Linked DNA regions of Homo sapiens. The protein of the gene in region 4 purifies or fractionates together with the protein of the main gene of each other region. This does not show direct contact. Each region holds a gene or a part of one and is shown on either strand. Other genes may lie near its edges. The genes, in order: TAOK2, PTPRF, POM121, PCDHB16, SLC39A11, ST7 and PTPRD.

What was found.
Region 1: the proteins of PCDHB16 (region 4) and TAOK2 purify together in Homo sapiens (affinity purification with mass spectrometry; 2 studies listed by BioGRID and IntAct, with this or other methods). This does not show direct contact.
Region 2: the proteins of PCDHB16 (region 4) and PTPRF purify together in Homo sapiens (affinity purification with mass spectrometry; 2 studies listed by BioGRID and IntAct, with this or other methods). This does not show direct contact.
Region 3: the proteins of PCDHB16 (region 4) and POM121 purify together in Homo sapiens (affinity purification with mass spectrometry; 2 studies listed by BioGRID and IntAct, with this or other methods). This does not show direct contact.
Region 5: the proteins of PCDHB16 (region 4) and SLC39A11 purify together in Homo sapiens (affinity purification with mass spectrometry; one large-scale study listed by BioGRID and IntAct). This does not show direct contact.
Region 6: the proteins of PCDHB16 (region 4) and ST7 purify together in Homo sapiens (affinity purification with mass spectrometry; 2 studies listed by BioGRID and IntAct, with this or other methods). This does not show direct contact.
Region 7: the proteins of PCDHB16 (region 4) and PTPRD purify together in Homo sapiens (affinity purification with mass spectrometry; 2 studies listed by BioGRID and IntAct, with this or other methods). This does not show direct contact.

What each region holds. Positions count from the first base shown.
Region 1 is NC_000016.10:29,976,868-29,980,367, reverse strand, and holds part of TAOK2 (serine/threonine-protein kinase TAO2), read right to left. Parts: intron 2,631-3,500; 5' UTR 2,596-2,630; coding exon 2,464-2,595; intron 2,280-2,463; coding exon 2,208-2,279; intron 2,117-2,207; coding exon 2,015-2,116; intron 1,570-2,014; coding exon 1,524-1,569; intron 1,395-1,523; coding exon 1,298-1,394; intron 1,174-1,297; coding exon 1,060-1,173; intron 952-1,059; coding exon 860-951; intron 1-859. UniProt on the Homo sapiens protein: Serine/threonine-protein kinase involved in different processes such as membrane blebbing and apoptotic bodies formation DNA damage response and MAPK14/p38 MAPK stress-activated MAPK cascade.
Region 2 is NC_000001.11:43,621,025-43,624,166, reverse strand, and holds the end of PTPRF (receptor-type tyrosine-protein phosphatase F isoform 1 precursor), read right to left. Parts: intron 3,071-3,142; coding exon 2,935-3,070; intron 2,233-2,934; coding exon 2,164-2,232; 3' UTR 501-2,163; downstream 1-500. UniProt on the Homo sapiens protein: Possible cell adhesion receptor. It possesses an intrinsic protein tyrosine phosphatase activity (PTPase) and dephosphorylates EPHA2 regulating its activity.
Region 3 is NC_000007.14:72,938,595-72,942,094, reverse strand, and holds part of POM121 (nuclear envelope pore membrane protein POM 121), read right to left. Parts: coding exon 3,414-3,500; intron 2,760-3,413; coding exon 2,686-2,759; intron 2,249-2,685; coding exon 2,127-2,248; intron 1,682-2,126; coding exon 1,579-1,681; intron 1,279-1,578; coding exon 1,102-1,278; coding exon of another isoform or gene 1,084-1,101; intron 259-1,083; coding exon 1-258. UniProt on the Homo sapiens protein: Essential component of the nuclear pore complex (NPC). The repeat-containing domain may be involved in anchoring components of the pore complex to the pore membrane. When overexpressed in cells induces the formation of cytoplasmic annulate lamellae (AL).
Region 4 is NC_000005.10:141,181,198-141,185,186, reverse strand, and holds the start of PCDHB16 (protocadherin beta-16 precursor), read right to left. Parts: upstream 2,801-3,989; 5' UTR 2,628-2,800; coding exon 297-2,627; 3' UTR 1-296. UniProt on the Homo sapiens protein: Potential calcium-dependent cell-adhesion protein. May be involved in the establishment and maintenance of specific neuronal connections in the brain.
Region 5 is NC_000017.11:73,086,189-73,089,688, forward strand, and holds part of SLC39A11 (zinc transporter ZIP11), read right to left. Parts: intron 2,588-3,500; 5' UTR 2,577-2,587; coding exon 2,469-2,576; intron 1-2,468. UniProt on the Homo sapiens protein: Zinc importer that regulates cytosolic zinc concentrations either via zinc influx from the extracellular compartment or efflux from intracellular organelles such as Golgi apparatus. May transport copper ions as well.
Region 6 is NC_000007.14:117,131,501-117,135,000, reverse strand, and holds part of ST7 (suppressor of tumorigenicity 7 protein), read right to left. Parts: intron 3,117-3,500; coding exon 3,041-3,116; intron 878-3,040; coding exon 809-877; intron 1-808. UniProt on the Homo sapiens protein: May act as a tumor suppressor.
Region 7 is NC_000009.12:8,520,503-8,524,002, forward strand, and holds part of PTPRD (receptor-type tyrosine-protein phosphatase delta isoform 1 precursor), read right to left. Parts: intron 3,023-3,500; coding exon 3,011-3,022; intron 1,045-3,010; coding exon 775-1,044; intron 1-774.

The DNA.
Region 1 (3,500 bases), on a different chromosome or scaffold from region 4:
ACAGACTGGAAGGGAGAAGAGACTGGAGAGATCACTGCAGGAGGCTGTTGATAAGAGAAACTAACAGCAACTCTTAGGCAACTGTTTTGTGCCTGGCATTGTGTTGGAAGCCTTATAAAGGTTACCTACCTCATTAAAGAATTGTTTCAATAGTGCTGGCTGACAGAGATGAGAACCTTGGCATGGCTTCAAGGCCTTAGGAACTCACTTGGACCTAACTCTCTGGCCTTATCCTTCAATATTCTCTGCATTACATGCTAGGTTCCAAATAACTGAAGCTAGTCCCAGTTCCCCAGGCCTGCACTTACCTCTAGGCCTCTCACATGCTGTTCTCTCTGCCTGGAAAGCTCTTCCCTACATTCTGCAAACAGCTATTATTTATCTTGCAGGTTGGCTTCAATATTCTCCTACAAGGAGGCCTTCTTCAGCCCCTAAACTAGGTCAAGTCCCCTGTTTTACATTTGAACCGCTCCTGTAACTTCTCCACACAGCGTTCATCACATTGAAAGAAAACATGCCTGCCTGGTTTCCCTAAATCAAATGTAAGTTCCATGAGGGCAGGATTTTCATTCACTGCTATCCCTCCAGAATCACAGTCCATGGCACAGCACATGGTGGGCACTAAGAAAAGATTCAGAACCAGGGTAGTGGACAGGAAGAGATGAATGCTACAAAATCTCTAGGCCTAAGAGCTGGCAGAATTTGCCAGCTGCCTGTATTGGGCTCCAGGGTAGAGTCACAACGGACAGGAACTTGGAGGCCTGGGATCCCATCCCTAGGAGAAGGGGGTAGTCCGGAGTCTGGGAACTAACAGGAAAGAATGGAAAAGATGATGAGGGAACAGGGAGGATGTTCTTACCCAGCTCGATGCAGGTTATCCCCAAGGACCAGACGTCCACTTTGCCATCGTACTGCCCCTCATCCATGGCCAGGATCACCTCGGGTGCCATCCTAGGAGAATGGTCAGGAGAGAGAGGCAAATCACCCGCCGAGACCCTGTCACTCCTACTCCCAACATCCCTGGGAGGTCTCTCCACTCACCACCACTCACTCACTCACCAGTATGGGGTGCCCACGAAGGAGTTGGCAGGTGCCATGATGGACGCAGAACCAAAGTCCCCTAGCTTCACTAACCCTGGCTCTGACAGCAGGATGTTTCCAGCCTTCACATCCCTGCCAGAGGCAAAGTACAGGGATGAGACATGTGTCTCAAGAAAGCTAGGCAGGGGCAGCCCAGCTAAGTGACAGGTGGTGCAGATAGCACTCCCCTCCCAGGCACTGCCGGTGCTGCTTGTACCTATGGATCATGTTGTGGGAGTGCAGATATGCCAGGCCCTGAAGCGCCCCGTGGGTCACAGCTGCGATCTCTACCTCCTGAAGGGGTTTCTTGTGCACTGGAGAGTGAGGAAGAACATCAACCCGAGGGAGCGCAAGGGTGGGACTGGAATAAACTCCCCTTAACCCTTCCCTATGGCTCCCCTGCTCTTCTCCCTTCTCCACTTATTGGCCTATCAGTCACTTACCTTCTAGAAGGTCAGAAGCTGAGCCCAGGCAATACTCCATTACCAGCTAAGGAAGAGACAAGGGTCAGAGATCAGAGTCTCCTGGGCAGGGACTCAAAACAGAGCTTCCTTGACTGTCCTGTACTCAAGCTATGTCCCCGGGGTGATGACAGGGAGGAAGCGCAACTGGAGACAATGAGGGGGTGGTGGGAGAGTTTCTAGAGTCTGGGCCCAAGACATTCACCACTGCCCATCTGAATCCCTTCAAACTCCCATTCAATCTCCACCTTCTCCAGCCCACAGTGACCTGTCCCACCTGCTAACAGCCTGTGTCACTGAGCCAGGCTTTTGCTCAGTGGGTATGTCTGAGGACTAAAGCGGTCAAAAGAGACTTCCTCCTTCCCAAGATCCCACAACAGCACCACGAACAGGGACCACCTAAGAGACTGGACTACGATAAGGACGGGCATGAATAGGAGTAAAGATCAGGCCAGAATCTGGCACCAGCTCACCCAAGCCGTGTGCTCCCTCAGGTAACAGCCCCGGTACTGAATGGTGTTGGGATGCCGGAGCTTCTGTAAGAACCGCACCTCCTTGATGATGTCTTGCCATTTCTAGGGGGTCAGGGTAGGCAGAGGTTACCCAGCTTGCATCTTGAGACAGGAGTCCCCTGTCCCCAACCTGGCTGTATTGCACCTGGCCCACCTCATTGGACTGCTTCCCACTGTAGGACATCTTCTTGATGGCCACCACCTCACTATTCCGGACATCCCGGGCCTAGAGGACCAGACCAGAAGGTGTTGAAGGCCCCATTGAGAGCCGGGCATGGGAAGACTTGCTGGCCCAGCAAGAGAAGGCAGGAAAGACCAGTGTGATGGAGTAGTGTGCAAGGGCTGTTGGGAAGTCCACAGGGATAGGAAGAGTCCCCATCCCTATTACACCCTCCCAAGACCCAACTCACAAAGTATACGGCTCCAAAGCTGCCATGGCCAATTTCCCGGAGGTCAGAGAAGAGCTTTTCTGGGTCATCCTTGAAGAAGAGCTCAGCCACATCTGGGTCCTTCAGGCTCCCGGCCCGGCCCCCAGCTGGCATGGTGGCCCCTGGGGGCCCTGAGAGTGGGGCCTGGCCTGAGGAATGGAAATGGGACCCTTAGAGATCAAGGATTGAGCCTTCAGGGAGAGGAAGGGACCCATCAAGTTTCTGCCATCTCCTCCCCTCATTCCCTGATGAGGAGGAGGCACTGCTGAGGAAGGGGAGGGGGAGATTAGGAACAACATCAAAGCTCCAAAAAATGAAGTTGCCCTGGCAACCAGATCACGCGGGCTGGGTCCCTGGAGTCCCTAAAACTGCTAGGAAGATTCTGGGAAGCTAAGTATCCTCACCACCCCCTTCAGTGCTCAACAAGTTCTCATTTCCCTATAGCCCCTGTATCTCCCCTCAAGGATAAAACATTCTGCTTCCCAGCCAGCACTCCAGAGCCCCAAGTGTCCTGTCCCATAAGTCCTATACCCCAACTGTTTCCAGGCACCTTTCTGTTCCCCTTGGCGCTGAGGCCCCCTCCTCCCTCAACCTCTCACACCCTGGAAGAGAACAGGAAATGGCCAGGCCGGAGGCGGTGGAAATCCGTCCATTGTTAGAAGTGGGTACTGGCCCAGAGGAGCCCGCAAAGTCACTCTCAAAAAAGTCAGGGGGAGATCTAGAATGGGAAGAATAGGGATATAAATGGCATCTGGCTATGAGGGCCTCTCTGTGCTCTGGGCCACCTTACTTGTCCTGTCCAACTGCATAAGCATCACACACAGGTACAGGACATTTGCAGGGTACAAATAACATTTACTGAGTACCTTACGTGCATTATCTCTATTCAGTCCTCACTACAACCTTATGAAGCAAGTACTATGATTTCCCCTATCTTACAGATAAAGAAACAGGCTCAGCAAGGTTAAGTGCCTTGTCCAAAGCTGGTCCTCCATCACTATGATTTCAGAGCAGCCCTT
Region 2 (3,142 bases), on a different chromosome or scaffold from region 4:
ACCAGTGGAGCAGCTGCACAGCTCAGTGGGTGATGCAGCTGTGTGTCCAGGGGCCAGATGGACACACTGTTTTTTGTGTCCATTATCCACATTGCAATAATTACAGGAGATCTCACTAACCAATTTCCATACATTCAGTCTCTACTGCCACAGGGCCATCCCTCTCCTCCAAGGTAGTGGGAGAGGGGCAGTCCCAATGCCCCGATAGTGCAACCCACAGAATCTTAAAGGGAAAGAGAGGCAAAGGGTATGCTCCCCGGCCTAGGGTGCTCTTCACATGCACTGGTGGCTCTGGCCTGGCTGGCTCTTGGTGGCCTGGTTTTCAGGGTTTATAACCACTCCTTTCTGAAAGTGGGTAGCCATGCCAGGAGCCTACACTGGCACAAATACTTAGGGTACCCTCCCCGTCTCCTCAGGAGCAGGGAATCTCCAGAACCCATCCTAGCTACTGATTTGGCCCAGACTCTTTGGTTCCAGAAACAGCTGAGACAGAGTCCTGGTTTGTAAGAAATCTGATTATTCAAATTTATTACCATCAAGAATTATGCAATGATGCTGTAGTTTTTCTTAACAAATAGAAAACAGACTGTGTACAACAGTGAACTCTACAGCACTAGCATCCACAAGGTAAAAATGAATGTTTCATCATCCAACATTACCAACCCTGGAATGTTGATCTTGACTTAGCCTAGCTAGGTTTGGGGACGTCGGCACCACGTCCCTCAGCTAAAACAGCTATGCACCCTTCCCCGCCCCCACTTACCTATCTAGATAGCGCTGCCCAGAGGAAGAGGCGCTCTCCCTGCCCCTCAGCAAGCTGGGATAATAAGGACTGATTAGAGTACCATTGATAGAAGTCCAGTAGTCTTGCCACATTGGTTTATGAGGGCATCTTGGAGTGGAAAAGAGCGATTATCGGGGGCTTTGAAAACAGCTGCAAACCAGGGAGGAAAATCATCTGGCCCCTGCTCTGAGGACAGACATGTGCTACCAGGCCCACTGGCCTGGACCTGAAAGGCCAGCCACGCCCCCGCTTGGCCCTGAGGTGCATGGGGTGTGGCACACACCCTAACCTGTGCTATTCACCTTGGCCACACAGCCAGACCCCACAGCCTACAAACACCACACCATACTGCAATGCTGGGGACCAAAGCCAGGCTCTGTGGGCCCAGGTCAGCCAGCAGCTCCCTCGGGAACCCCAGGCACACGGAGTTGCTTCCCCTCTTGAGGGTTTGAAGCAGAAGCCAAGGGCTGACTCTTTTTTTTTTTCTTGGGTTTTTTGTTTTTTTTGTTTTTTATTTTTGTGGTTTTTTGTTTTTGTTTTAACCTTTGCAAACACGATGGTGATGAGGAATGCCTTGCCAGGCTCTCCCAGACACATCTGTGGTTCTGGGCTGTGAATGTTAAACACACACTGGGATAGACGACCAGGGATGAGTGTTCCCTATCTTCTCCCCGCCCACCACTGTCAATGTGGCCTAAAAAAAGGCTTTAAAGGGAAAACAAAACTTAAAAAAACATTGAGTTTCCCTGCATTTAGCTGAAACAGGATCTCGTCTGAAGGGCTGGAGGAGCAGCCGGATCAGCACTGCCTCCCGGCCCACGGCCGAGCCTCCGCTCAGGCTGGCAGCCCCAGCTCTGCACGAGGAAGGCAATGTTCTGTCCTTCAGCAGAAGTCATACAAAATAAGGATCCAAAGTGAACTCAAGAAAAAAAAAAACAAAACAAAATAAACCCCAACCCCTACAGTGGCCCATTCTGCAGATACGGATTCGCGAAAGGAAAAATCAGAGGGAAGAGGCTAAAATCCCTCAGTCTACCCCACTTAATGTATTAAAAAGGAGGCTTTGCCCCAACCCCACCCCATGAGAAGAAGCATGAGAAATGCGGGAGCGCAACAGAGAGCTTGAAGCGGGCTCCAGGTGGGTCTGGTGGACAGAAGGGCCACAGTGCCTGCCTGCTGGGCCATCCACTTGCCCAGGGATGTTCTAGGCTCTCTGATTGGTGTGGCAACGTTCCTGAAACGCTGTGATCCCCGTGGGCTGTGCTCTGCCAGTGACAGCATCTGCGTAGGAGGGCTGGACGATGGTCGGTATGGCTCAGAGGAGCTGGGTCCCCTCCGGAGCCCCACGGCGGGGGTGGCGGAGGAGAGGGGAGCGGTAGTTACGTTGCATAGTGGTCAAAGCTGCCGAGGTACTCCAGGGCCGCACGGTAGCACAGCTGATACTGGTCCTGCCAGGATAGGGGGCTGGTCAGTGTGGGTCGCGCCAGTGGACACCCCCACTACACAGCTGACACTCACACTGCAGCCATGGAGTTAGCCTCTGCTGGCCAAGAGCAGGTGCTGGACCCTGGCAGCTACATCAGGCAGTGTGCGGGGGAGCCTGAAAGAGCCTCTGAAGGCTCATCTCTCTCCTGTCATTCTCTCAGGCCCCCACATCTACCTGCCTTCCATCTGCCATCCCAATCATGTTTCTCTGCTCCTGACTGGGCACCCCATAAGGATTGCTCTGTGCAACCTTGCCCAGAGCCAGGCACACCACTGGGGCTCAGCAGAGAGCTGCCGAATGAAAGAACACATCTTACTCATCAATCCCCTGAGCCCCCAGGCAGCACAGGCAATGTTGCAGCATTTTTGTTTTGTTTTGTTTTGTTTTCAGCAACAGGGTCTTGCTCTGCCACCCAGGCTGGAGTGCCGTGGTATAATCATAGCTCACTGCAGCCTCGAACTTCTGACCTCAAGTGATTCTCCCACATCAACCTCCCAAGTAGGTAGGACCATAAGCACACACCACCATGCCTATCGCAGGCCACGTGAAAGGTTGGCAGCATGAATGAATGCACATGCCTGTGGGCATCAAACTGTTGCTAAAGCCTAGGGTTCCCAGCAGCGCTGCTGCCAAGGCCCTGGCCCTGCAGCCTGGTCTGCGTTACCTCTGTCTGCACCATGGCAGGACGCTGTGTACGCAGGGTCTTCACGGTCTGAAACATGTCGACCACGCCCTCGTAGCGCATGCGCTCCAGGACGATGCTCAGAGTGATGAACACCCCGGTGCGGCCCACGCCAGCACTGCTCAGAAACACAGTTGGGTCAGGAGTCCTGCTTGCCTCATGCAGTGGGTCTGCCAGGCCTTCAGGCCCA
Region 3 (3,500 bases), on a different chromosome or scaffold from region 4:
TGGGGGCGGGGGACGGGGCAGATGTGGCTTGGGGTTTGGTAGCCGTCTCTGCCTGAAGGGTTGGAGGTGCCTTGGTGTCAGTGGCTGGTACCATGGATGGAGCAGGGATCAGCCCCAGCAAAGTGGTCGGGGGTTTGGAGTCAAAGGAGGGGCTGGGGAGCAGCCCTGGCGGCCCTGACTGTGATAAACCCAGCGGGGGTAGGAGGCTGGGTGTCTTTGGAGGTGAGAGGGCCTCAGTGGTTGCTGCTCCAGCAGATTCTGGAAGAAGAATAGAAAATGTGAAATTGGAATAAACACTTCAAAGATGATGGTATTCAGTATTTCAGTGTCCTCCCCACGCCTACCACAGAGCCTGGGATCCAAGAGTCAGTCAATAAACTCAGCTAAGTCTACACTACAGGCCTGTACAGTAAATCAAGGAAGTGTTATTTCTACCTCACAGATCATCAGACAGAAGGGGATAAAATGGGGCCTAAATGGGGGCCTAATGTGTAGAGACTAAGACAGTCCAATTGTCTGAACTCTGAAGTTCACGTATGAATCTAGATATACTTTATTTGCCTACTAAGCTCACCTGCCAGGCGCTAAGAGCACACAACTATGAATGGGGAAGTCTCTGCCCTTGAGCAGGGAGGGTGCGTACGAACCCCAGGTTACCGTCTGATAAAGAGGTGTGCGCGCGCAGTGCCGTGAAGGCCTGGGCCGGGAACACCAGCAGCCCTCGAAGTGCTGGAGGGAAAGGAAGCAGTGCTGTTCTGGACCAGTGGTTCTGACAGGCAAGGATATCCTGACCACGCCACCACATTCACACTTCAGAGGTGCCGCACAGGGAAGATCATTCTCATCTGACAGATGAGGAAGGCGAGGCTCAGGGCAGCTACGAGCCAGGCTTCAGATCCTGAGCGTCGCAGCACCCCTTCTCTAACACTTCCTGATGCGGGCTCTGGCGCTGTTAAACGTGGGCCCGCTCCGGTGTGCTGAGCCAGGGTGCGTTCGGCCTGCAGAGCAATCTCCAGCGACTGACAGGCACGACGCCCTTATTCCAACTCAAGCCGGGGATGCTGCTCAGAAGGCTGGATCCACGGCCCCACTCCAGCTCACCTGGGCAGGGTGGCAGGCTCGGGGGAGTCTGCATCTTCTTCAAGCTCTCTAACAGTGGGTTGGTGCTTGGGGCCAGGAGGGAGGTGGGTGGGGAGGCAGGTGCAGCAGCAGGCAGGGTAAAGGTAAATGAAGGCTGAGTGATAGGTGGGGTCTCAGTGACAGAGTTCGAGGCAGCATCTAAGAAAGAAAGAAAGGTGAAGCAGTCCTGGCTTGTCTGGGACTTCTTTCCACATGCCTGTCGGAGAGCAGGCTCTCAGCACAGCTCATGGAGGAATGCCTGCCCTCAATTGCAGTGGTCCCTGCTGTCCAGTTCCCGTGAAGACCAACACGGATATCTCAGGTGAGAAAGACCACAAGAAAACATGGAACCCTACTTGGGATTTTCCCAGAGAAACCCATTTTTTCAAACACCAAAATAAAACCAAAGAAAACAGACACCTGAAACCTCTCCAGTGTGCAACAATCTGTGCTCCTTACCGCTCTTGTCCTCCAAGGCCTGGTTGAACCACTGTAATGAAGCCTTCTTCTCTAAGTCTAGGTCCTCGGCAGTGATCGAATAGCCAAGCTGGGGAGGTGGAGGCTACCAAAGTGAAAAAGAAGAAGTCAGGCCAATCAGAAAAAACGGGAAGGCTAGGCATGGTGGCTCACACCGGTAATCTCAGCACTTTGGGAGGCCAAGCCAGCTGGATCACTTGAGGTCAGGAGTTTGAGGCCGGCCTGGCCAACATGGTGAAACCCCATCTCTACTAAAAACACAAAAAATCAACCAGGCGTGGTAGCAAGCACCTGTAATCCCAGCTACTTGGGAGGCTGAGGCAGGAGAATTGCTTGAACTCAGGAGGCAGAGGTTACGGTTAGCCAAAATCGAGCCACTGCACTCCAGCCTGGGTGACAGAGGGATGTTGTCTCAAAAAACAAAAACAAAAATAAATTAGAAAAAAAATCAGAAGAAACTTGTCCTTAGCGTTCCTAATACTTAGGAGAGCTAAGCCGGGGAGGGCAGGAGTAGATGGACAAGACCATACCAAGGTCAGCTGTTCCCCTCGCCGAGAAGGCAGCAGCTGAACTTTCCGCTTACGCTGCCCAGAGCTGCCAGGTGTAGACTGAGAATTCGAGTTTTGTTTCTTCCTTGGGGTTGTATCTGCAGCTAAAGAAAGAAATCAAGACTCGTTTGCTTCCTTCCCTCTTCCAGAAATGGATGGTTGTGTCTACCCACTTCGCATTTCACATTGAGTTTTCAATGGGTATCTCTGAAAAGATTCAATCTTCTATGGTTTGGTTGCTTGGATGGTGTTTGCAAGATTAAGGCGCGCACACAAACCGCTTACTGTGCAGTAATTACTGGGATCACCCACAGGTGACTCAAACTGAGCTTACCTCTATCCAATCGTTAGTCCCTGTCTGTAGCCTTTCTCCCTCATCAGACTATAAACTTCTGAAGGAGAGGAAATCTCTCTCTTTGTATCTAACATGCCTTAGACATAGCAATGCTCAAGACCTTTTTTCAATAGGTATTAATCTCTACATCCTCCACAAACACCTCCACCACCAACAGCAGCCCCTCCTCCTGGCTCAGCAACCTACCCTTTTCTCCCTGGGACTCCCTGTCTGCTGCCAATGGAGTTGAAGAACTGGAATGATGACACAGCTCCTCTTCTCTGTCAGGAAAAAAGGAACAATTTAGTCTAGAAAGGCTTCTTGGCTGAAGTATTAAATAATTTCTCACACCCTCCTAACTACCAAGTGGCCAATGTCTAAAACAACCATCATTTAAGATCTCAGTATGCCAGGATAAAAAAAGTCAACAGGAAATTCCAACAGAATGAAGGGAGGCTGTTCACAGAGGCCATGAAGACAGCTTTTGTCTTAAAACAAGCACAAAACAATAATCTTCAAACCTTACTTACAACCTATCAAGTCCCTGGGAGTTCTAGACACAGATGTGATCCCTGAGGGAGTGGCATTCCAGCCAACTGCAAGCACCTAGGGGGTCAGCTCGAGTCAAGAACCTGAAGGCGACTGCCCGCTGACTTGACTCTCTCTGCTCTCCACTCTGCATGGCCTCTGTGCTTGCACCCGATCCCTCATGCTGGAGTGGGAGGCGACAGCCAGAGGCCACTGGAGTCAGTATCCAAGACTGTAGGGATGACAGCACTTCGGGTGGGTACTGCATTGTACCTCTCAGGGACTTAAGTTTCTTTGATTCTCCAAGTCACAGCAGCACAAAGCCTAAGAGCCAGGTTCGTTTCCCACCTTTCCTCACCCCCGCCTGTCCACGCAGCAAATGAAAACTGCAGGAGAATGCCAAGTACCTTATTTTCTTTGCTGGCCTCTCCGGTGTCTGGGAGCGGGAGGAGGCTGGGCTAGAGAAGGGTGATGAACTGGGGCCATTTCTCTTC
Region 4 (3,989 bases):
AAGACGGAAAAATTTTAAATGACATCAACTTTGAAGATAAAGTATATTTTGTTAATTGGGATTCTATATGCAACACCTCTTCGGGGTAAATATGAGGAAAAGGGAAACTGGAATTAACAATATAATTTGAACTAACAATCAGAGAAAAATACCTTATTGGTGGTGGTGAGCATGAACAATTTAATCAACAAGACAATCATAAGAAGTTAAGGAATTTATCAAATGGGTTCCTATCAATAATTAAATCCAAAGCTATTGTGAAGGGTGGAATTTTAATCTATTTCTTTCCTAGTGCCCTAAGGAGAGAAGTTGGGGATAATCGGCTTCAGGAACTTGAACTCACTTGTTTCTGAGCCTCCTGTCAGACACACCTCGTATTGGTAGCTCTGGGACAGGGTCCCGGTGCCGCTTACGTCCACCAGACGCCCTGGAAAGGGGCCCTCAGGCATCGAGCAGCGGCCCACCGAGGCCGCCCTGCTCCTCCTGCACAGCCGCACCGCCACGAACAGGAGCACCGAAAAGAGGAAGAGCGACGACACCGAGGCCAACGCCACCACCAGGTAGACAGTGAGCGAGTTGGCCTGGGTCTGGCCGGGGGCCGCCTCTGGGAGCGGCAGGAAGGGCTGGGAGAAGCCGTCCACCAGGAGCACGTGCAGCGTGGCGGTGGCCGAGCGCGGAGGCTCGCCATTGTCCTTGACCAGCACCACCAGCCTCTGCTTGGCTGCGTCGCGCTCGCTCAGCAGCCTGGCGGTGCGCACCTCGCCATTGTGCGCCCACACACCGAACAGCCCGGGCTCCGTGGCCTTGAGCAGCTGGTACGACAGCCAGGCATTCTGGCCCGAGTCGCCGTCCACCGCCACCACCTTGGTCACCAGGTAGCCCGGCTCGGCCGCCCGGGGCACCAGCTCAGTGCAGGGCGCGGAGCCGTTCTGCAGCGGGTACAGCACGAAGGGCGAGTTGTCGTTGGCGTCCAGCACCAGCACGCGCACCAGCGCCTCTCTGCTCAGCGCGGGGGAGCCGCGGTCTGTGGCGCCCACGCGGAACTCGAAAGCCTGCAGGGCCTCGTAGTCCAGCGACCTGAGGGCGAACAGGTGGCCGTTGTCCGCGTTGATGGAGACCAGGGAGGCGAGGGGCAGGTGCGGGTCTTGGGGCGGCAGCAGCGAGTAGGTGACCTGGGCGTTGGTGCCCGAGTCTCTGTCTGTGGCGCTGACGCTGCCGATGTGCAGGGCGGGGCTGTTGTTCTCGCGGACGAACAGGGTGTAGGAGGTTTGGGTGAAAGTGGGGGCGTTATCATTGACATCTGATATCTGCACTGTTATGTTGTGCTCCGTTTTCAGCCTTGGAGTCCCCATATCTGTGACGGTGAGGGTGATATTATATTCAGCTCTTGCTTCTCTGTCGAGTGCTCTCTCCGTTACCAAGGTGTAAAAGTTCTTGACTGAAGGTTTTAGAAGAAAGGGAAGGTCTTCCTGGATGGAGGAAATCGTCTTCCCATTGTTTCCGGAGTCAGGATCTGAAACGCTGAAAACAGCAACTACTATCTCAGGCGAGTTCTCTGGGATGGGGCTGGTGAGTGCAGACATGGTCACCTGTGGGGGATTGTCATTCACGTCCACCACCTGCAGGAGAAGAGTGCACTTTCCTGAAAGACCTCCCCCATCTGTGGCTTTGATGCGCACTTCATAAGACGTAACCATTTCGAAATCTACTTGCTTTCTCAGTCGAACTTCCCCTGTCATAGGATTTACCTCCAAAGTTTTACTAATATCCTCCGAAGGCTGAAAGAGTGTGTATGATATTTTTCCATTGGCTCCGCCGTCTAAATCCCTGGCGGAGACGGTGGCAACCAGGGAGCCAAGAGGACTGTTCTCTGGAATCTGCACTTTGTAGATGGGCTGCTCAAACTCAGGAGCGTTATCATTGATGTCCACCACTTCAATACGGACCTGAGCAGTTCCAGATCGCGGTGGAGAGCCACCATCCAGCGCTGTCAGGGTTAATCTTAGTTGAGGCTCCTCCTCCCGATCCAGCTCTTTATCCAACACTAGCTCAGGGTATTTCCTGCCATCTCTGAATTCATGGATTAGAACCCGGAAATGAGAGCTTGGGCTGATTTTATAGTTTTGAACATTATTGCTTCCTACGTCCAAGTCCAAAGCATGATTCAGAGGGAACTCAGTTCCTAGAGGACTGTTTTCCGGTATTTTTAGAATCATTTCCTTTTCAGTGAACATGGGAGAATGGTCATTTATATCTATCACCCTCAGTTCAGCCTGAAATATTTCTAAAGGGTTTTCCATTAACACTTGGAAATGTAGTATGCAAGGCTCAGTGGGACCGCATAGCTCCTCTCGATCTAGCTTCTCATTTATGAGCAAATCCCCAGTTTGAGCCTTGAGCTGCAAATGCTGTTTGTTCCCCTGGGAAATGATCCTGGCCTTGCGGGTGGACATCTCTGTCAACCCCAACCCCAGGTCTTTTCCTAGATTTGCCACAAAAGAGCCTCTCTCCGTTTCTTCCACTACGGAATAGGACCCCAACTCGGCGCCCGCCCCAGACAAGCTCAGCAAAACAAAGAAAACAAGGACTTGCCTTTGTCTCCGATTGTGCATCCATCCAATCTCCATTGCTTTTTCTTGAAAAGTTGGTTCACAGAAGCTTCATGTATCCCCAGGATCCTAGTAGAACTGTTTTGCAGTCCAGAATGTCAGAACCAAGCAGCCCAACGGTGTCTTAAAGAGGTTTCACACTCACGTTCGCTCTGGCTCAGCTATTCTTCTGCTTCCAGGCTTTGGGAAACGGTTTGCTGGATCCTGGAGCTGCGTAGGCAGTTGTATTTTCCGTCATCTTAACCTGCAGCGCCACCACGCGTTCTCACTGAGTCTTTTACTGTGGTTGAATATTGGAGGCAAAATACTTCTAAATGTACTGAATAGACTATGTAATACAAAACACTGAGTTCTATTTTCATGTGACTTTCGTGTATACAGATGGAGCTCTGTGATGTTGTACAGGGAGGAGTACAAAGAGAAGACTGTCATTTATGTTATTGACTGTTTAATGCTGTTGAGATTAATGATTAAATAAAATTCAATGAACATTTAACCAGACATAGAATACACACTTAGAAGCAAAATTTTTCTGAAGTAACATGAGAACAGTTTCACAAGTACATCTTTTTCATGGTACCTATATAGACACTATGAGTAGACACTGCAAAATTGCAATCAGTGGTAGTTCTAAAGAGTATTTAACAATTGCTTTATTAAAGAATAAATTACTTCCTTTTCTTTCTGACACCTAACCCTGAGAAGTGTGAGTTTTTACAACTTTCAAGTTATTGGAAAATTCATTCCCAAACAAGCAAATCTCAAGGTTGGGTCTGCTACACTTTTGGATTCCCCCCACCCTTTTTTCATTTCAATGGCTTTTAATATATTCAGAGGTGTGCATCCGCCATCACAATTTTAGAACATTTTCATCTCAAGAGAAACCTTACCTCTTTTAATTATCACCGTACCCGTTCTCCCATCCCACTTATAAACATATGTGTGTGTGTGTGTGTGTGTGTGTGTGTGTGTGTGTGTGTGTAGGTTAACTGAAAAAGACTGAAGAAAGAGAATAAGAAATTCAAGAAATGAAACTATAGGTTAACTCTACTTCCTACTTAGACTCATTTCTTTAATAATGGATATGGCACGTAGAGAAAGTACAGGACTATAAATCAGGTTAATTCGCTCATCATAAAGTTCATTTGTAGTATCTGTCCCAGCATACTTAGAGCTTTGATAAGAACATGGGTATATTTGTGCAGAGTAGTATAAACAAACTATAAACTAAAACTTATATTTTCACATGAGAGTTTAGTTCATGGAGTAGGAGTAGGAATAACATAAATTTCACTTCCTTAGTTAGAAAAACAATGCTATCAGTTAATGCCTGACCATATAGCATATTGGCTAGACTTAGATTATATTTTAAATTTTTAC
Region 5 (3,500 bases), on a different chromosome or scaffold from region 4:
GTTTTGTTTCTTGATCTGGGCTCTAGTTTCATGAGCACTTGTGGAAAGTTATCAAGCTGCATACTTATATTAGGTTGGTGCAAACCTAATAAAATGCACCAGCCTAATAAAATGTGCATTTTTCCATAAGCATCTTCTATTTCAATACAGATTTTTTTTTTTTTGCTATCTATCCATAGATGAATGGATAAACAAAATGTGGTATGTACATACAATGGAATAGTCTTCAGCCTTAAAAACAAAAGAAATTCTGGCACATGTTATAACGTGGATGAGCTCTATGGACATTCTTTGAAGTGAAAGAAGCCATGTGGTCTACAGAACTTTTCACCTTACAAAATTAAAACTCAGCTGGGCATGATGGTGCACACCTGTAATCCCAGCAGTCTGGGAGGCCGAGGCAGGCAGATCACTTGAGGTCAGGAGCTCAAAACCTGCCTGAGCAACATAGTGAAACCCCATCTCCACTACAAATACAAAAATTAGCTGGGCATGGTGGTGCACACCCGTAGTCTCAGCTACTTGGGAGGCTGAGGTGGGACGATCACTTGAACCCAGGAGGTGGAGGTTGCAGTGAGCTGAGATCATGCCACTGAACCCCAGCCTGGGTGACAGGGCAAGACTCTAGCTCAAAAAAAATAAAAAATAAATAAATAAAACAGCCTGGCCGGATGGGGTTACCAGCGAAACCCCGTCTCTACTAAAACTACAAAAAAAATTAGCTGAGCGTGGTGGTGTATGCATGTAATCCCAGCTACTCGGGAGGCTGAGGCAGAAGAACCTTTTGAACCTGGGAAGCAGAGGTTGCAGTGAACCAAGATCACGCCACTGCACTCCAGCCTGGGTGACAGAGCAAGACTCTGTCTAAAGAAAAAAAAAACAAACAAAAACAAAAAACCCTGAAACTCTGTACTCATTCAAGAATAACTTATTTCTGCCCTCCTCTGTGGCCCCTGGCAATCACCATTCTACAATGTGTCTCTGTGAATTTGACTTATCTTGGCATCTTATATACCTAGGTTCCAGATAAACCATGTTTCTGGATTGTGTGTTTTCTGATTTCCAGTCTCCAACCCATCAGCTCCCGGGGGCAGTGCAGCGCAGCAAGGGAGGTCGGGATTTTATTGTTGAAATCAAGGCCTGCTGTACTGGTCTCTAACACAAGAGTGCCTGACTTGTGAACTTCCTAAAGGTGTTTTCATTTCCAGATCTCCCTCACAACATGTTGAACTAGATCTTAAGTCACTTATTCATTTGCCGTTTCTACAATGTCTCAGGCTACCGAGGTGATCGATGCAGGGATTGTGCATTCATCAAGATACCCATGGATGGCTCCAGGGCTGCGGACTGAGGGTGATCTGGGTTGGAGAAAAGAATGCAATTTCAGGTATATGAGGTGAGTGTGGGTTGTGCAGAGGTGTGGGGAGGGCATATGGGTATGGGTATGTGTGCAAGTGTGGGTATGTGGGACTATAGGTAGAGCGTGTAGAAGGGGTGTAAGGATGGGGTTGTGGGAGGAGGGAGAGATAGGCTGTGGGGCCATGACAGTGAGTGAGGGCACTGGGAGTAGGATACAAGGAAGATGTAGGAGAAAGAAGTAAGAGTTTGCAGGGGGCCAGGGACATGGGTCTGTCTATATTCATCCCAAGGGGAAAGGAAACAACCTGGAGATGGGTTGAAAAAAAAGGGAACAGATGCCCCTTCTTCTCCCAAGGTCTTTCCAACCATCCCACCCAACTCAAGTCCACAGGGGAGGACAGTTACACCTGAAATCTAATGTTCTTCGGTCACGCATAGTACCACTTGCTCCAGGCCTGAAAGAAATTACATGGCAGGCCAGGCACGGTGGCTCACACCTGCAATCCCAGCACTGTGGGAGGCCGAGGTGGGTGGATCATCTGAGGTCAGGAGTTTGAGACCAGTGGTGAAATCCCACCTCTACTAAAAATACAAAAATTAGCCAGGCGTGGTGGCACATGCCTGTAATCCCAGCTACTCTGGAGGCTGAGGCAGGAGAATCACTTGAACCCGGGAGGTGGAGGTTGCAGAGAGCTGAGATCCTGCCACTGCACGCCAGGCTGGGCAACAGAGCAAGATTCTGTCTCAAAAAAAAAAAGAAAAAAGAAAAAAGAAAAGAAATTACATGGCAGGTAGAAATTAGGCAGCGGGCTAACGAAGCCTCAATAACTGGGCTTCTCACTTCCTATTCCCTTCAAGTCAGGCTGTCAAGGGTCAAGAGGGGAGATGATGGTGCATGAAGGTGTCTACAGCAAGCAGACATCTGTTCTCCCGGCCTGGCAGGGAGAAGGTGAGAAAATAAGAAGACAGCGAACAAACCCCAGTACACAATGCCTGGGGGTGTGGCCAGGGGCACTGAAAAGTCTACAAACCTGCTCCATGGAGTGGGACAGTGCCCCTTTACCAACGGGCTCCCCACCAACATCCAGAACCAAAGCAAGGCAACTCACCTGTCCACTAGAGAATACGAACACGAGAGCTGCCCCAGCTGCTGTCATCCCCCAGGTGAAGAAGGTCCCCAGCAAGGCCTGGAACACAGAGCTGTGGCCTTGGAGCATGCTGGATACAGCTGTGCAAGAGGAGCGAGAGGGTCAGCCACCGGTGGTCCGTTTCAGTGACAGGCGCATATTCTGACGGGTCCTAACACCCTGTGTGGGAGCTGGCCTCCCTCCAGGTTGACCGTATGCACCCTTCCACCACGCCATCTGTGTCCCTCAGCCACCCAGCACACAGGTCAGGCTTCTCTATCCAGGTCCCCCAGGAACTGGAAATCGTCTTAATCTGAAAGAAGGCACAGGGAGATGCCAGGGGAATCCACAAAAAAGGCTGCAACATTGAAAAGTGGTTTCAAAGAGAAGCACAAAGAATGTGGTTTATTCCAGAAGAAGGGGGCATAGGAGGGTCTGATGCAGCCTCCCCCACATAATCTGCCTCTTCTACCGTCTCTTGCCCACCATCCGCACTCAGCCTCCACCAAAGACAGGTGACTAGCTCAGGTGATGTCAACACGCTTCCAATCTTAATCCCCATCACATCTGCAACAGCGCACCTGCCCAGCCAAAGGGTAAACTCCACCAACCAACTTTTGATACCCACCAACCCCCGACTCTCCAATCCCGTTCTCCATCATGCCTGCACGAGCACCCAACTCCAGCTCAACTGAATTATTTATGGCACCTTCCACAAGCCCCAGACAATCCTGCCTCCAAGTCCCTGTTCATGCAGTTCCCTCCTGGAATACCTTCCTTGCACATTTCCAGCCATCAGAACCCGGAGCACCCTCTGCAGCCCACATAATGCCAACCTCACGACCAAGGCTTTTCTGGCCTTCCCCAGCCCTGTCCTAGCATGCAGCTTTGGTCCTCTCTCAGTGTGGCTTTGCCTCCATCTTTTACAGCCTTAGTTGCTTGAGGACGGGGACGGTGCTTTTTCACATTTGGCACCCCTGTAAAATAGGGCTTTGTAACCCCTGAAAAATATGT
Region 6 (3,500 bases), on a different chromosome or scaffold from region 4:
AACTGCAATAGCCAGCTAGGAAAAGGAGGCTGAACTTCACAGCTAATGTAAGGGCTGGGGCTACTAGTTAATCTTAGCCTTAGGAAGGGTCTGTAAGGTCTTTAGCCAGTCTCTCTAATTTCAGGCAGGAACCATCAATGGGGCTTTAAACAATGTGGTGAGGTAGGGAGAAAAATGCCCAGAAAAACAGCTATAAAACCAATTTCTACAGATGGCAGCATCCATGACTTGGAAAGAACCATAATGATGCTGAAACTATACAAGTGATTCACTGGAGAAAATAACTGGGACAGGCATCAGAAGAAATGCTTAAGGCTTCAGATGCCAACATATAAATATGAGGCAAGGGTAATGAAGTGAAAATTGAGATTGTAATACTGAGTGGTAGATACAGTATCAGAGGAATTAGCTATAAGATTGTAGTTGTTGGGCTGGGAACCCAAGAATGGTTGGGGCTAGCTTGCTTGCTTTGCTTATTTATATTTCAAATGGTATTCTTAGGAGGAGAGGCAGAGTAGCACTACTGGCCAAGAAACATACATCTATGTGGAAACGCATGAGTTTGGGATAGAAACATGCTAAGAGCTTGTGAGTGAAGGAAAAAGGAGAGAGCAATAGAAGTGCTAATGGTTGGGGAGTACAGAACAGACTGCTCAGCTCGATGGAAGATATAGATGATGCATCCTTGTCACAACACAATACACATACAGAAGCAAGAAAGTGTGGTGATGGGGGTGTCAACCATCCAGATATCCACTAGAAGTCTCATTTGGTTAGAAGTAGGGCACCCAACAGGTTCTTGACTTACTTTGGTAACAATTTTATCTCCCAGATGGTAGAGGAAGCAATTAGGGGAACTTCAACTCTGGACCTAATTCTGACCAAGAAGAAAAAAATAGTTGGTAAAATGAAAATTGATAGGAACATTCAGAGAGAGTCACTATGTCATTTCGGAGTTCAGGGTAATCAAAGAGGGGAAGGTGGACTTCAAAAAATTCAAAGAAAAGAGGCATGATTCAATGGCATGAGATTCAGAAGGAAAAATGGTTTAAGAGGGTTGAGCAGCTTCCAAATGTTCAACTGTAACTGCAATCACAAATGATCCTCTCAGGAAGAAAAGAGGGGTGGCACTTAAGTAACCAACACGGCTTCACAGAGATTTCTCCCAGGTCAGATTTTTAAAGGACATATTTTAAAAGATGGAAAGAGGGCATGTAATGATGGTCTATAAGAGAGTGGAATGAGCTTATAAGAATAATGTCAGGAGAGCTACAATTCCAAATTAGCTGAAGCTTGCAAAAATAACAATAATAATAATAATAATAAAACAAAATAAAATACTAAAGACAACCATTTATTCCCTATTTTAAAATTATATTTAAGGCCCTATCACCGTCCCCATGTCACAAAGGCAAATAAGTAAAAAAAAAAGACAAACAACATAATAACATCAAAACAAGGAAGGTTTATTGTTAAAAGCAGTAGATAATAAAGAAAAAGCAAAACTCTCTCCCTCCTATTTTGTTCCTGGCTTCTCTATCAAGGAGAATGACTGTCAGACTGAAAAAGGGAGAAGAAATTAAACTCTAAAATGGGTAAAAAGATGTAAGATAGCAAATAATTGATCCATTCTAAATGAATTACTGGACTGGATGGGCAAATCCCAGGAAACCGAAAGACCTTGTAGGCAGGCCATGGAATTGCTCTCTGTGGATAGTTGAGGAATCACAAAGAATGGAGAGGTGCTAGAAGATGAGATGATAAATGTAGCATAAATTTTCAAAAAGGGGAAGAAGGCAGACTTCCCAAACTACAGAACACAGTGATTTGGAAAGATATTCTAATGGATTATTAAAGGAATGGTCTCCAAGCACTTTAAAAAGAAAGTAGTGACGACTAGAAGCCAGCTTATATTCACTAAGAATAAATAAATCAGATTGTGCTAGCTTAATTTACTGTAATAGATTTACTATAAATTTAAGATCCGCAGCTACGATTGGCATTCTTAAGATCCAAATGGAGAAATATGAGCTGAGTCACAGTGTAACTGGGTGGCTTAGTAATTGAGTGAACAATACAAAAGATGGTGATTCATGAAGACATGAACCTGGAGGGTAGTTTCTATGTCATGTCACAGGGCTCTATTCCTGGCCTTCATATTTTTCTCAGAAATATGGATGACACACAGAAGGCAGGCATATCGAATTTGTAGATGACAAGAAACTGGAAAATAAATATGTTGCATGACAGAATCAGAAACCGTAGATCAACTGGTTACAATGGCAGGATTTTCAACTCTCACGACAATCTTTTTTTTTTTTCCCTAAGATCTCTGAAGAAGATTCTGTAACCTTCTTCAGAAAAATCATAAAATAGTTTAACAATGACCACTTGGCAAGGATAGTGTTGAGGTGATTCAAGCACCAGATGGGTGGTTCAGCTAAGTGACCTTTAAGGTCTCTGCCAACCCTGAGTTTTTATGACTCCAACTTTAAGAATCTTTCTCATTTTCTGAGATCTCCAGAAGAGATTTCCCAGCCTTCCTTGGTAACCCACAGAATGTTTAACAACACTCAAGACAGCATTTCCTCTTATCTTTGTCTTAATCTTGAAGTATTTTCTAAAATTTTTTTTTTAAACCTTATGTTGTTATCATGTTTTCCCCACTAGCAGAAGTTCTACTAGAAAATGTTCTAGTGCAGATGAGCATTCTACATCTGGAAAATTTTCCCTGTCAGAATGTTTTAGATATGTAAAGAATTGTATTTATTTTATATCCTCACAATATCCTAGGGATAGCCCTTCAAGAAATTAATTTAGGATCACAGCAAAGCCATTGAATTCATAAAATGACTAAAACCACCTCCACATGGTGGCTGTCCTTCATTTAAAAAAAAAACTTTTTTAAATAGAGTAATAACTCCCCAAATAATCCTCCAGTTCAAATGCAGTTTAATTTAAGTATCCTATCAATGGCAACTGAATATATTCAGCAAAGGATGAGATTTCCTTTTTAACAGCAAGATTTTCCCCCACTTACTCATTTATCTCCAAGGCTTCATGAGCTGCAGAAATCCTAGCTTGGGGGTTTCTCTCTCTCCAGGCTTTCTGCATTACTATTTAAGAAAAAGAGAAAACACCAAGTCAATCCATACATATAATTAGGTAGACTCAGTAGAGGACAAGAGCTAAATTAGGAGTGTCAGCTTAAATTACAAGAACATATTTCATTGCTAAGAGGGTTGGCCAAAATCTCCAAAGTCATATTAGTGTATTAATGTGCTATTCCACAGTATTTCAACTGCTGATAGCAAACCTTTTTTGTGCTCACAAAACTACAGGCTAAGGAAATCAAGAAAAGGCACTCTAACAGAGATTTTGCGTGTCTTTTGCACATTAATGTCATTTGTTCTTGGAGAATATATTTTATGCATTTTGAGATGACATTGCTACCAACCTTTTCATTCACTTAGATACAACATAATTGGTCATTTTCCGAA
Region 7 (3,500 bases), on a different chromosome or scaffold from region 4:
ATTTGTGTTCATTTTGCAATAGTTCTAGCCATCTGCAGAAAACTTAAGTTGCCCTATGTCTGACTCAATTTGCAAACACTTTCTAGAATTCTATAAACACTAGGGGAAAAAAAAACGGTACCCTTACATGCTTGTACTCTTTCTCTTTAGTTCAAAAATATTCATGTAATATAGTACTTTGGTTATATTTAGTCTGTTTTTTAAAGGAAAGAATATTCCTTGAGCACTCATCTATGCAAGGTGAAAGATAAAACTACAACAGAATATACTCTTACTTGCCTTTTGATTTTTAATAGTAGGGCTCACCAAAAAGTTAAATCATCTATTACTAGACTATGTTGATTTCAACTTTTTTTTTCTTCTTTTTCCTTTGTATTTAGAAATTTTAAGCATTTATTAATGCTCATATTGACTTTTCTTGGGGTTCTTATCAAGGTTCTGGTCTAGTATGTAGACTGTACACATCAGTCCCACCATAATGGTCGACCATGTGTAAAATTCCTAGTTCTGTCTGGTTAGTGCCTGGGCCTCCATGGACTGTCTTTTAATATTCTGATGATTATCTCTACATAGGCTGCCAGATACTTCCAAGAAAAAATCCGCCTATCTAGGCTTATGCATGTTATATAATACCACAGATATGATTAGGTTATACACACATTTAAAATGCTGAATAATGAATTATTTTAGATTTTCAAGGATGGGCTTTCTAGAGGCATTAGTCACTTGGCTTGAGTGTACCCAGATCCTCAAAGCATAATCCATTGAGCATACCTTTGACAGTGATCTGTGCTATTGCTTCAATGACACCCAGTGTTGACATAGCAACACAGGTGTAATTTGCTGACTGTCTTACATCATTCAGTTCTAGCACATTTCTTCCTATTGGCATATCATCTTCAGGTGTCAGATCTTCTGCCCCCAACATCCACTTTACATAAGGCATTGGTGACCCCACGGCCACACAGGTGATATTAACGCTTCCGCCTGGCATGATTTCATGATTAGTGGGTGGGATAGAGAATCTTGGTGGGACACGGCGAACTGGAACAAAACACAAGGGAAATGATAACATATACAAGGCAAGAAAAAGTGGATTATTAAACACATGACATGCACCGTACAGACACGATTCAACAATTGAAACATTGTGGATTGTCCAAAAACAAAACATAAAGAAAAACTGTGGATAATACAGACCATACAAGTATGGTGTGTGTATACACAGAATTATTTATTTAGTTTAGTCATTGATATCTTAGACACACTAATACAAAAGTTGATTCAGACCTACAAGGGCCCCACAAAAAACTATCTACAAACTAACAATACACAAACATCATGCATAAGATAAACACAAAAACATATACATGCAGGCATATAACAATGATTCTATGCAGGCATGTATATGCAGAAAAGGGGGCTGGAAGGTCACCAGCATGTTTAAGTTGAGTATCAAAACCAACTTCAGTGCTGTGCACTTCCAGTTGATGTGAATGTAGGTGTGGGACCACACTGTCACATCCCAGCCCTGGAAAACATCACCTAGAGTACACTGAAAGTGCACTTTATGTTTTCAGATTCATAGTGGATGCAGCCTCAAGACCTCACACTAACACTGGAACAAACACAGAAATGTATATACATATTGATTTACAGTCACAGAAGAAGAAACAGGCTAACACCAGTAGAGATACTGGATTGGGTCATGCAAGGCATGCACAAGATGGAATCTCAAGGCCCGTGCTAAGGATATTGAAAGAATGGCTGGAATCCAAGACAGCAATGACCGCAGAAGAAATAAGGGGGCAATAGAAATAAACGTGAAAGGGGGAGGTAAAGTATAACGATTGAAACACAGGGACTTAGGGGATGACAGGGTTGAAAGACAGAAGATTAAGCTCAAGTTGTTAAAGGTAAGGATTGCAAATTCAGAAAGGGAGCTGGGTGTTTCACATACAGGATTCCATTCAATTCATATCAAAGGTAAAACAACATAAATGACAACAAAATCTTTTAAAAGGCTTTTTATGCCCACATTCAAATTGAGGGACACTGGATCTAAAACATACAGCAGGACATGACATTAAGAGAAGAGATCATATTAAAGCAACATAACACAGAAAAATTACCAAGCAATTTCAGTTCAGTGTTCCTGCTTCAGATAATCTGCAGGTTTATGTGTGTTTAAGTAAATGTGTTTTGGATGTGATACAAGGAGAAAGTGAAAGATAAATTGGTTTCATCTGGGGCTTTTACTGGCAAAATGTCATACCATAAGAATTTGAGATCTAGAGGGTAATCTTTAGGGAGCACACCTTAAATACATTTAATAAAGATTTTTTAAAAATTATAAATAAACTGATAAGTAACCTCATAACCCCAAGAAGAAGATAAGTAATTCTGTCTGAAAACTTTTTGGCTGCTCTTAAGGTCGAGATAAACCTCCGCTTATTTGAGATGGCTCACTGCAATGGCCTCATGGGTGAATGACAGTCATAGGAGAAGAAGAGAAAGCTAAGCATGCCTCCTGCAGCCAATTCACAGAGGTTACACAAAGCAAGCAGGAGCCAGTGTAGACTCTGAGGTATCAAAGAACATATCAAGAAAAATGGAGGAGAGTTTAGTCTTCATGCTTGGGATTAGGGGAGAAACTAGAAAAAGTCATTCTATGGGCAGCAGGCATCCTTATAAGACAGAAATTAAAGGCAGGGTGGGAGATGGGGACAGTGGAGCAGGAAGGAAAGCAGGAACACTGACCAAGTTCACTGGACCTTACAGAGTTAAGTGTTACCAGTTACCATGCACCCAGGTACATTCTCTCCCACCATGCACCACAGTTAGATACCACCAGCAAGCACCAGAAGCCATGGCCAGGGCATTCTCTGCTAAAACATACCATTAACCAAAAGAAGAACACAATGCAGCTACATTCATTTCATTTGTATTCTTTGTTATTGGTTTAATTAATAGTTTTGTAAGGTGGGTAAAAAGTAAAAAACACACCAACCTTCTCGCAGCTCTGAGGGATGTAGGGGGTTTGATGCAGAACACAATGAAATGAGGAAAGGAGAAAAACAAGGGAAACACAGAGAGAGTAAAAAGGCCATATCAAGGCTTTCAACTGCTACTTGAACATCTTTATTCGCTCTAGTTCATCCTTCCTATCTCAGCTGGAAAAGTTAGCAATATCTCACAGACTAACATGGTATTAGAAACAATAGCTAGCATCATTTTGAAATTTTCCATGGAAGAAGGTACACATGCCTCATGCAGCAAGGGAGGTCACTATTGTGGAAAAAGGATCAAGGGACTTTCGAAGAATTTAGAGAAGAAATGACTTTCTTCATATTTCCCCACCCCAGACTCCATAAAAAAAGAAAGGAGAGAAAAACATCCCCAGGGAAACAAAATTACCTCTAACAAAAATTTCAAAATCAAGCTAGGTATTTTCTTAAGGGAACCCATCCTATTGTAACTTAAAGCCCTCTCAGTCTTTT